Linked DNA regions of Homo sapiens: all the other regions are linked to region 1. Evidence: fine-mapped expression QTL. A gene starts in region 1. Each other region holds a variant in brackets. All regions are shown on one strand. Distances are from middle to middle. Region 1 holds the start of ATP5F1C (ATP synthase F1 subunit gamma). Region 2 overlaps TAF3 (TATA-box binding protein associated factor 3). Region 3 overlaps TAF3 (TATA-box binding protein associated factor 3). Region 4 overlaps LOC105376392 (a long non-coding RNA gene).

Evidence for each region. PIP is the estimated chance that this variant, and not a neighbour inherited with it, causes the effect. A credible set is the group of variants that fine-mapping cannot tell apart.
Region 2: its variant is the best candidate, but not a certain one, in a credible set for the expression of ATP5F1C in atrial appendage (GTEx, PIP 0.64).
Region 3: its variant is the best candidate, but not a certain one, in a credible set for the expression of ATP5F1C in subcutaneous fat (GTEx, PIP 0.66).
Region 4: its variant is the best candidate, but not a certain one, in a credible set for the expression of ATP5F1C in whole blood (INTERVAL, PIP 0.61).

Annotation. Positions count from the first base shown.
Region 1 is chr10:7,787,035-7,789,534 of GRCh38, reverse strand. ATP5F1C (ATP synthase F1 subunit gamma) reads right to left here and starts at 1,358. Exons shown (of 10, transcript NM_001001973.3): 1 at 1,272-1,358. The coding sequence starts at 1,327. It overlaps KIN (Kin17 DNA and RNA binding protein), which reads left to right and starts at 1,542. Exons shown (of 13, transcript NM_012311.4): 1 at 1,542-1,715. The coding sequence starts at 1,602. RefSeq lists enhancers at 274-817, 1,270-1,589.
Region 2 is chr10:7,826,617-7,829,378 of GRCh38, reverse strand. All of the region lies in intron 2 of TAF3 (TATA-box binding protein associated factor 3), which reads right to left. Among named protein-coding and RNA genes, the nearest start is that of TAF3, 9.5 kb to the right of the region's middle. The variant T/C (reference allele first, on the strand shown) is at 1,528.
Region 3 is chr10:7,856,981-7,859,480 of GRCh38, reverse strand. All of the region lies in intron 2 of TAF3 (TATA-box binding protein associated factor 3), which reads right to left. Among named protein-coding and RNA genes, the nearest start is that of TAF3, 40 kb to the right of the region's middle. The variant C/T (reference allele first, on the strand shown) is at 1,439.
Region 4 is chr10:7,810,859-7,813,620 of GRCh38, reverse strand. The region is part of intron 1 of LOC105376392 (a long non-coding RNA gene); the gene reads left to right. Among named protein-coding and RNA genes, the nearest start is that of TAF3, 6.3 kb to the left of the region's middle. The variant C/T (reference allele first, on the strand shown) is at 1,134.

The DNA.
Region 1 (2,500 bases):
AACAAGTGGGACAATCTATACAACTGAGAATTCAACTACAGTGACCTTTTAATTCCCATGAATGTTCTTTTTCCATATTAGAGAAAAAAAAATCTGACTTCCAAGGCCAAGCCACCAAAAATTTTATGTGGCTAATTCACATCAGATATCATTCTGAAAATCTCGTATATTACTATCAGTTATTTGCTTAATGAAAAACCTATTTATTTCAACTAATGCTTTATGGTCCCTTCATATAAATTAGGATACGAAAATCTAGTTTAGCACTGTAGCGCCTTAGAAATCCTCCACACTGTTAAGAGCAGGGAATTGCTACGACACAGCCTAGAATCCCCTTAGCAGCGTGTCTGGAATTCTTCCAGATTCCGTCAAGCTTCAAAACTGAACAGCACCACCCACAAACCAACTTTTACCTGCCCATTCCCGGGCCTTCTAATATGCACTTCCCCCAGCCCAGGTCCCCCTACCCGGAACTAATGTTTAAAATTCTCGAGGCTCGTGGCACCCTTTAGTTGCATGTCAGTTAACAAATGCCACTTAAAAGCCCACCGAACTCCTCCCCCAGGACCTGGGGGCAATTTCATGACCTTGCAGGGTTACGGTTTCAGCAAGTGGTTTCAAGGTAGTGCTAGGTGTCCTTCCCTTCCCCGCCCTCAGACAGATCTGTACGGTCCCTTCTGCACCAAAACCACCCTCAGAGGCATCTAGGATGTTCGCCTTTGCTGTTGCAGCACCCAGCAAAGCGTCTGCAACACGGGAGGTGCTCGACGGCCGCGCTCTCTGACTCGATCGAATCTTAAAGGGTCACTCTGTCCAGCACTACAGGGTTTCAAAGGGCGTCAAGGACAAAAAGCACGACTTAACCTTCCCCTGGGCTATTGCTCAGGCTCCCGTCACCTTGCAGGCCCTGAGACTGGGGGCCTGGCTTGCAGTGGAAGTGGAAGCTCAGGAAGTGCTGATTAGCTGAGGGAACTCAAGACCGCCCAGACGTCAATTTGGACTCAGGCCGCAGTCCCGAGGTCCCAGGTGGCCCTCCGACCTCAGGGAACCGGGCGGGACCTTGCTCCGCCGGAGCCCGGCCCTGCGCACACCTTGCCCGACCTCAGAGCCGCTTCCTGCAGCCCCCGCTACCCGGCGCCTCCGACGGGCCAGGGGCCCAGCTAGGCCCTGCGACCCCACATCTGCCCCCGCGCCCATCTCCTCCTCCCTGCCCCGTGCCCAAGCTCTTCCATCCCTTGCGGTCCTGCCGATCTTCCCGCAAGCTGCCATACCATTGCGGCTGCAAGGTCCAGGCCGACAGCCCAGCGACACCCGCGCGAGAGAACATGGTAGCCACAGCCCTGCTGAAGGTCGGTCAGGCAGGCCTCAGCGCGCATGCGCCGAAGCTCCCCAGCGCGCCCCTCCCACCTTGCTCTCTTCTTCAGTCTCGTTTCTTCGCGCTACGGCGAGGGGAGTCTCGCGACCGTTGCAACCCAGTCTTCCCAGGCCCCACCTCCTTCCGCCTCTCAGCTGGGATTTGTCCCGCCCACCGCCGCCAGCCCGGTTCCGTTTCCGGCTGGCTGAGTACTGGGGTCCAGAAAGTGATCGCTGCCGTGGTCGCCATGGGGAAGTCGGATTTTCTTACTCCCAAGGCTATCGCCAACAGGATCAAGTCCAAGGGGCTGCAGAAGCTACGCTGGTATTGCCAGATGTGCCAGAAGCAGTGCCGGGACGAGGTGAGTGGGCCCGGAGTGGCCCCGTCTTCCCAGGAGGGCCCCTGGCAATCCAGGATCAGGTCCTGGACGCGGGGCTGAGGGCGCGGGGCTGGGGCTCCCGGGGTCCGGGTCGTGAGGCTTCTGAGGTCTGCAGTGGGCGAGTCAACTACTCAGCGCACGAGAGCCGTCCCTCCCCGCAGCCCCCGGGCCCAGCGGGCAGCCTGTGTTCTGCGACCCCTCATTCCTCCCCAGTCCGATCCCCACCACCAAAGAAATGAAATCAGAAAAGGTTTTGCACCCCTCACAGGGGCGGGGATACTGCAATACTAGACGCCCGGGCAATGCCAGTAACAGTCATCAGCTCTTACTTGACTTGACTCTTAAGAGAAACAGGGTGGTTAGGATTCACTCCTCTTTTGGGATCAGGTGAAAAAGGAGAGCTAAGCTCTTCCACACTACTCATCTAGCAAGCATTTATTGAGCACCTACACTGTACCGGGCACAGAATAATATTGTGGTTAAAATTATGGATTTATCTGGTTTATGGATATATCAGACTGTCAAAATTTAAAGTCAAGCAGGGCCACTTACCAACCGTGTGGTCTTGGGCAAGTTATTTACTTATATTCCCCTTTACTTATCTGTAAAGAGGGAATAATAATTTCACCTACTTGTAGGATTGTCGCTGAGTTTTAAATGAGTGAAGTATATATAGAGTGGCTCAAGGAGTCTGGGCAGATCTCGAAAAGCCTTATATGGCTACACTATGGAATTTACACTTTTCCCCATTAAAGAGGTGGTTGATT
Region 2 (2,762 bases), 40 kb before region 1:
GGACATCCAGTAAAAACTAAGGAATGTCAATACAGTGCGGGCGTCACTTAATAATAACATGTCAATATTGTTCATTAATTGTGATACACGTACCATAGTCACGTAAAAGGTTAATAACAGAAGAAATGGTTCAGATGTGAGTGAACTCTCCAAACTAACTTCTCAATTTTTTCTGTAAATCAAAACTGTTCTAAAAAATAGTCTATTTTAAATTTTAAAAAATAGAAACTCTAAAAGTGGCAACCTCACAGTATCTTTACCAAGTTTAAGTTGAGCTTGGTAAGTTTCCTGCAATAAGTCAGGGTACATGGTTTATATTCCTTTTTTTTTTTTTTTTTTTTTTTTTTTTGAGACGGAGTCTCACTCTGTCACCCAGGCTGGAGTGCAGTGGCACGATCTCGGCTGACTGCAACCTCTGCCTCCCGGATTCAAGTGATTCTCCCATCTCAGCCTCCCGAGTAGCTGGGACTACAGGCACCACCACACCCAGCTAATTTTTGTATTTTCAGTAGAGGCAGGGTTTCACCATGTTGGCCAGGCTCGTCTTGAACTCCTGACCTCAAGTGATCCGCCCACCTCGGCCTCCCAAAGTGCTGGGATTACAGGTGTGAGCCACTGCGCCCAGCCTATATTTCTTTCTTATGCAAATATTTTGAACCAATCAACAGACCCCCCCAGAAGACCCCCATTGACCAGTGATCTAGAGACCACACTGTGAGAACCAACAATGACTTTGGCATAGTACGCTGTACTATTTTCAGACATTCCTCAGCACAATAAAATAGGAAGCAAAAAAATATGGTATTGGTGTGAATCTGAAAATATGTATGGCAAGCTGGGGAGAGAATGTTCTTGGATAAAACACACTGGGTACCAGCCATCAGAACTGTAACAGTCCAAGCAAAAATATGCATGTATAAAATATTTTCAAAGAGGTCTCACTTCTAAACATATAATCAGATAAAGCAGGCAATAACTCCTTCCACATCATCTCCTCATCTGTCATCTTCACACTGCGGATAATCACACAGCTCCTCAGTCAAGTACCTATCCAGCCCAGCTAGTAAGTCTGTTCCCTCAGATCCTCAGCACGTGATGGTAACACTACTTTACATTGATTCGTCTCTTTTTTTCAGAGACAGGGTCCTGCTATGTTGCCCAGGCTGAAGTGCAGTGGGCATTCACAGGCTCAATCATTGCGCACTACAGCCTCAAACTCCTGGGCTCAAGCGATCTTCCTGCCTTGGCCTTCCAAGTAGCTAGGACTATGGGTGTGCCACTGAATGCAGCTTGACACCGATTCCCCTTATAGCGTGACTTCACTAATGTATATTGTATTTCAATTCAAAAGTAAATTATTTAAGAGCAAGAAAAGAAAAAGGGGACGAGAACTAATATTCGCTGTCATGTGTTTTATTTTTTTTTGAGACAGGGTCTCGCTGTCACTCAGGCTGGAGTGCTGTGGTGTGATCATAGCTCACTGCAGCCTTGACCCCTGGGCTCAACTGATCCTCCCACCACAGACTC[T/C]GATAGCTGGGACTACAAGCGTGCACCACCATGCCCAGCTAAGTTTTTGTTTTTGTTTTTTTTTTTTTTTTTGAGACAGAGTCTCGCTCCGTCACCCAGGCTGGAGTACAGTGGCACAATCTCGGCTCACTGCAAGCTCCACCTCCTCTGTTCACGCCATTCTCCTGCCTCAGCCTCCCGAGTAGCTGGGACTACAGGCACCCGCCACCACGCCCAGCTAATATTTGTATCTTTAGTAGAGACGGGGTTTCACTGTGTTAGCCAGGATGGTCTCGATCTCCTGACCTCGTGATCCGCCCGTCTCCGCCTCCCAAAGTGCTGGGATTACAGGCGTGAGCCACTGCGCCCAGCCAAGTTTTTTATTTTTAGTAGAGATGAGGTCTCATGACGTTGCCCAGGCTGGTATCAAACTCCTGGGCTCAAGCTTCAGCCTCCCAAAGTGCATAAGCCATCACACCTGGCCCACTGTTATGTATTTTATATGTTAAACACTGTCCAATTTTATATAAATGTGTTAACAAAAAAAAATTACTTGATTCTCCATTTCCCCAATGTGGTAGGTGTTATTACACTTATTTTACAGATGAATATAAAGTTCAGAAAGGTAAAGTGACTTGGGAAGACCAGAAACTCAGTGACTCGCTGAGTCATGTCTCAGTGATGCCGTGAGGTCCACGCTGTGCCTCTCACAGCCTGCTGCCCCTTCAGGCCTTCTATGTGTGCACACTCGCCAGCTCCAGCTGCTGTGGAGGGAGACTTTCACAGGCTTTTTTGACATGAACCAAGCTGAGTGGCTGATAAGAGGGAACCCCATGGAAGGACCTTGCTAATAATATTTTAAGACCAAAGTCTGGCCTGTCTGTGGCTCTTAAGGAAATAAAAGGAAAATAAAGAGCATGGTGAACAGCATCATTATCAAAGGGGTTCACCTCTGTACCTCACTTTGCACCACTAATCAGAATACCAGGAACTTTCTAACATGCTGTACCCATGAAAAAAAAATATTTCAGATTGTAAATGACAAGAAATGGTCTTGTATGGTTATATTTTTAAATGGTAACCAAAGAATTGCATTTTATATCCTTTTCTTATGAAGAGGAGAACGTTTTGACAAGCATCTTACTGTACTGCCTACCACTTACTGCATCCTTATAAACCATATGCATATATTACAAATCAGCAATATTTTTCCTTCTTAATCCACATGTGTTAGATAAAAAGTGAAAAGTAGTGTT
Region 3 (2,500 bases), 70 kb before region 1:
GAATATGGGTCCCTACTATTCTCCCCCAATCTGGAATGGACTGAAGAAAAGGCCCATGTCAGATGATTTCAGAAATCCCCGCTGCCCTCCTGAAACTCAGAATCCACATGGCAGGATCTGAAGGCAGGATGTGTATATGTAGAAGAGGCATCACACTTCTCTTTTATTTATTTATTTATTTATTTATTTATTTATTTATTTATTTATTTATTTATTTATTGAGATGGAGTCTCACTCTGTCGCCCAGGCTGGAGTGCAATGGCATGATCTCAGCTCACTGCAAGATCCGCCTCCTGGGTTCACGCCATTCTCCTGCCTCAGCCTCCCGAGTAACTGGGACTACAGGTGCCCACCACACGCCCAGCTAATTTTTTGTATTTTTAGTAGAGACGGGGTTTCACCGTGTTAGCCAGGATGGTCTCGATCTCCTGACCTCGTGATCTGCCCGCCTCAGCCTCCCAAAGTGCTGGGATTACAGGCGTGAGCCACCACACTTTTCAATAAGGTGTTCTAGAAAGGCCTCGACAAGATGACATATGAATAGAGCCCAGAAGACGCTGAAGAGGCCAGCAGTAATGGAGGAGGATACATTCACATGTTCATATGCACACACGCACACTCACACGTACATTCAGTGACATGCAGGCGCGCGCACACACACACACACACACACAGAGCCTATAATGTACCAGTGAAATCTGATGATGATAATGTTGACATTAAAATAATTCATAGCTGCTAACATGTGCTAAGCATGTGAATATGTCCCGGCCACGGTTCTAAGCATGTTATACACATTAAACTCACTGCAATCCTAAAATAAGTTCTCATTAACAGTAGATATATTGACAGGCAGAACACACAAAAAGACTGAACTTAGTTAATAATCTAAGACAATTTTCAACATGACACAGATACGAACTTGCCAATCAATGACATTTTTCTGCCTCCCAGTTCAGAAAGTACCTAATCAGTAAGATCCGGAACTAGTGAAAAAACAGTTAAGTATAGATGCAAGAACAACCCCTGCTAATGATCATAATTGTAGCCTAGCTGACATAAACGATTGTATCATCCAGGAGGTTCTAAAGGATCAAGCGCCAGGAAGAAAAACTAAACATACAATTCAGGAACAGAACCAGAATCCAAGTCCAAATGATACAATATTACTGGCAATTGCTTGTAACATCACTCACTTCTTTGATGACCTGCAGACCAGTGGCTTTAGAATAAAGAGGAGGATCTTATATTCTATCACAAAAATTCTCTGGGAAAAGACAGTGATTCTTAACAGCCAGGCCAATCGTTATTTTGATTATATATTTTGAACTACATCCCATAGTTCTTTTACTATGGGATATAAGAGGAAGCAATATGATTTCATGTCCCTATTTGTAACAAAACAGAGCCCAAATGTTAATATTCTACTGAGGCCGTT[C/T]AAACCTCTTTGTAAGCTGTCAACTCCATAAATCCTCAAATTCCACTCTCCCCTACTCCTACCTCCCCCAGATAATTCAGCTGGCAAAGTTTCTGAGAAATCCCTAAGGTTAGCAGAAAAAAAAAAAAAAAATCAGAAATGTTGAAAAGAACCCTGGGGTGTGATATAGCTGAAAATCAAGAGAGTTTCTTCCCAATGAATTTAGAAAGCTAATAGTACTTTCATAACTTCTCTAATTTTCCCCTGCCTTTTTCTTTCTTAACAAAAACATCACTTAAGATACTGAGGTAAATAATCACATAAAAAAGCTGACAGAAAGCTAAGAGCTTTTCTTAGATATTTATACCCGTGTGAAAGAAAAAAGTCATTATTTCCCTCAAATCAAAATACAATTACCCTTTCATGAAATAACTCACAAACAGGATGAAGAATGCAAGCAACATAAAATCAAAATGCCCTTTAAAACATTAGAACAAGTCTGAGTAGAGGCTTGTGACATCCACAAATGATACACTACCCAGTGTCCACCTCCACACTCCGAAGACTGTGTGGCACCAATTCCCTTCCTCTCTGGGGGTACCCATGGCTACTCTGTAGGCGTCCTGCCAACTTCTCCTCCAGCTCCAGAGAACTTTCTCCCGGACAGACTGTTTAAGGGGGCAGTGGGAAGAAACTGCTCTAACTTGCTAATCGGATAAAACTATGTACCTGTGATAGGGAAGGCAAAGTTTCAGAAATGTTGAAAATGTAGATTACATTTATAAGTGAGCTGTGGCTGTTCCATTGTGAAGAACACAAACAGCTGAGGAAATATTCTTCCAGTATTCAGAAACTAGTATCCAATTCAGCAAAAAAGTCACTCATATCATTAAGCAAGGAGGGAGGTTTTGACATTCGTATGTGTTGTTTCACTTTTGTCTTCCTCATTAACATAAAGGAAAATATCAACCAACATTCACGTTGGAACTATATTCATCTGTCAGTTGTAACAGTGGTTTGCTTACGGACATGAAAGTTGGGAAAATTAACAAAAGCATTCTCTGAGAATCAGTTGGCTACATG
Region 4 (2,762 bases), 24 kb before region 1:
TCCTCACCGCCAGCCAGTGGGGGAATCCAGCTCCAAAATCCCATCTTGCATCTGCTCTTTCAGACCTCTCCGGCACCAAATGTCCCAAGCTGGACTCCCCAGGAGGCTGTCTCTGAGATGAAGATTAACCTCAGAGGAGGGCTCTTGGGGTCACCGCCTGGCAGAGAGAAGAGGAGGGCAGGCAGGAAGCAGGACTAGGGAAGGGCAGTGTTGAGAAGGGAGGGGCTTGGGGAGGGGAAGGGATGGGGAGAGGTTGAGGAGGAAAGGTGGAAGGGAGAGGAAGGGGGATGGGAAAGGGGGGGACGGGAAAGGGGAGAGAGCAGGACTGGGATAGGGAGACATTGGGCTCCAGCTCACAAAGGCCTCAGTCAAGCCCACAGAGAGCTGTAAGGCTGGAATGGCCCTTTGCAGTGTCCTGAGCCAGGCAGGGGGTCTTTATACTCTCATACTGATCAGACACTGGATGTAGGTGCTTCCGGAGGGGGCCATGACCTTGGGCAAGGTGATCTCCAGCTGAGGCAATTCCAACGAGGGTTGGCAGCTGGGGGCTGTGTGCTTCCACCATTCCCAGTGGAAGGTCCTTCTGAAGGGGGATCTGGATGGTGCATCACAGCTCCCACCTCCCCATAATACCATGATCACACTCAGCAAACTAAGATTGACACAATAATATCCCACAAAATAAAGTGCGTGTTCAGATTTTCCCATTGTCCCCAAATGCCTTTTATGGCTTTACATTTTATTTATTTATTTATTTATTTTTTGAGACGGAGTTTTGCTCTTGTTGCCCAGGCTGGAGTGCAATGGCGAGATCTTGGCTCACTGCAACCTCCGCCTCTCGGGTTCAAGCGATTCTCCTGTCTCAGCCTCCCAAGTAGCTGGGATTATAGGCGTGCACCACCACACCTGGCTAATTTTTGTCTTTTTAGTAGAGATGGGGTTTCACCATGTTGGCCGGGCTGGTCTGTAACTCCCACCTGCCTTGGCCTCTCAAAGTTTTGGGATTACAAGGCATGAGCCACTGCACCCAGCACGGATTCTTTTCTTTAGCTGGTGTGTCATGATCCATTACCTTCGTGATTCTCTTGCTGCTTAAATTGTCCCGTATTTGGCCAGTGGGAGCCCTTTCCAGC[C/T]GGCCACTGTATTCTTGTACTGTGTCACCATCATTCATGGAGGACTTGCTATTTGGTGCCACTAGATTTTCCAGGCTCACCTTGTGCTTCTCTTGCTCTAAGCTTGGAAGTAGACATCTCTCTGAGGAGCCCTGGTTCTTCTTAGAAAGGAATATTATTTAGAACCCAGACGTGTGCTAGCTGACCTTCATTACTACAGGGAAATCATTGCTTCAGGGCCCTTGTAGTGGAAAGAACTAAAAAATATGTATCTTTTTTTTTTTTGAGACGGAGTCTTGCTCTGTCACCCAGGCTGGAGTGCAATGGCTGGTCTCGGCTCACCGCAACCTCTGCCTCCCGTGTTCAAGCGATTCTCCTGCCTCAGTCTCCCGAGTAGCTGGGATTACAGGTGCACGACCTTGCCCGGCTAATTTTTTGTATTTTTAGTACAGATGGGGTTTCACCATGTTGGCCAGGCTGGTCTCTAACTCCTGACCTCAGGTGATCCGCCCACCTCGGCCTCCTAAAGTGCTGGGATTACAGGCGTGACCCACTGCACCCAGCAATATGTGTACTTTTGAAGTGCAAAGTACACACAGATGCCTCTAATTCAAGTCTAAAATTACATATCCCTTTTCTCCTCCCATGTCCTATTTGCATATCCTGTCTCTCCCAAAGTGAGAAACCTGGCTTCAATATCAAAGATTTGACTTATCCTGCAATGTCTTTGCCTTTTATTACTTTTTTTGTTTGTTTGCTTGTTTTGTTGAGACAGAGTCTTGCTCTGTCACCCAAGCTGGAGTGAAGTGGTACGATCTCAGCTCACTGCAACCTCTGCCTCGCAGGTTCAAGTGATTCTCCTGCCTCAGCCTCCCAAAAAGCTGGGATTACAGGCATGCACCATCATGCCTGGTCACAGCTCACTGCAGCCTCGACCTCCCAGGTTCAAGCAATCTTTCTACCTCAGGCTCCTGAGTAGCTGGGACCACAGGCACATGTCACCATGCCTGGCTCATTTTTGTCTTTTTTGTAGAGATGGGTTTTGCTATGTGGCCGAGGCTAGTCTCAAACCGCTGGGCTCAAGCAATTTGCCCACCTCGGCCTCCCAAACTGCTGGGATTACAGGCATGAGCCACTACGCCTGGCAGCTTTTGTCTGCTTTTACAGTGTTCTCTTTTCATAGGATTCACCTCAGTGATTTCATCATTAGCTGTGTAAAGATGACTCCTTAATATAACACTTTATCTTGGATTGTTCCTGAGTGCTATACTAGCGTAGCTAACTGCATCTAATGACTAATGTCTGCTTGGATGTCCAATATATCACTCAAATGTAATTAATGTTTGAGGGATGTCCGAAACTAAAATCATTCCATTCTTTGCTGTATACTTTGCGGGGGTAGAGGCAGGATCTGTGTTCGTCTCATTCACTAGTAAATAGTACCTAGCAGTTAGTCATATTTCAGTAATGCCTTTTAGCACAATTCATCTTGCAATGATATAGAGAGTGGATTAGAGCACAACTCTGAATATATGAAAAACCACTGAGTGGTAGAATTTAGAAGGGTGAATTTCATGGCATGTGGATGATGTCTCAGTGAAGCCACTCTTTGAAGAGAGTAACTAGAAGTGAACAGTGGAGGCCAGGAAT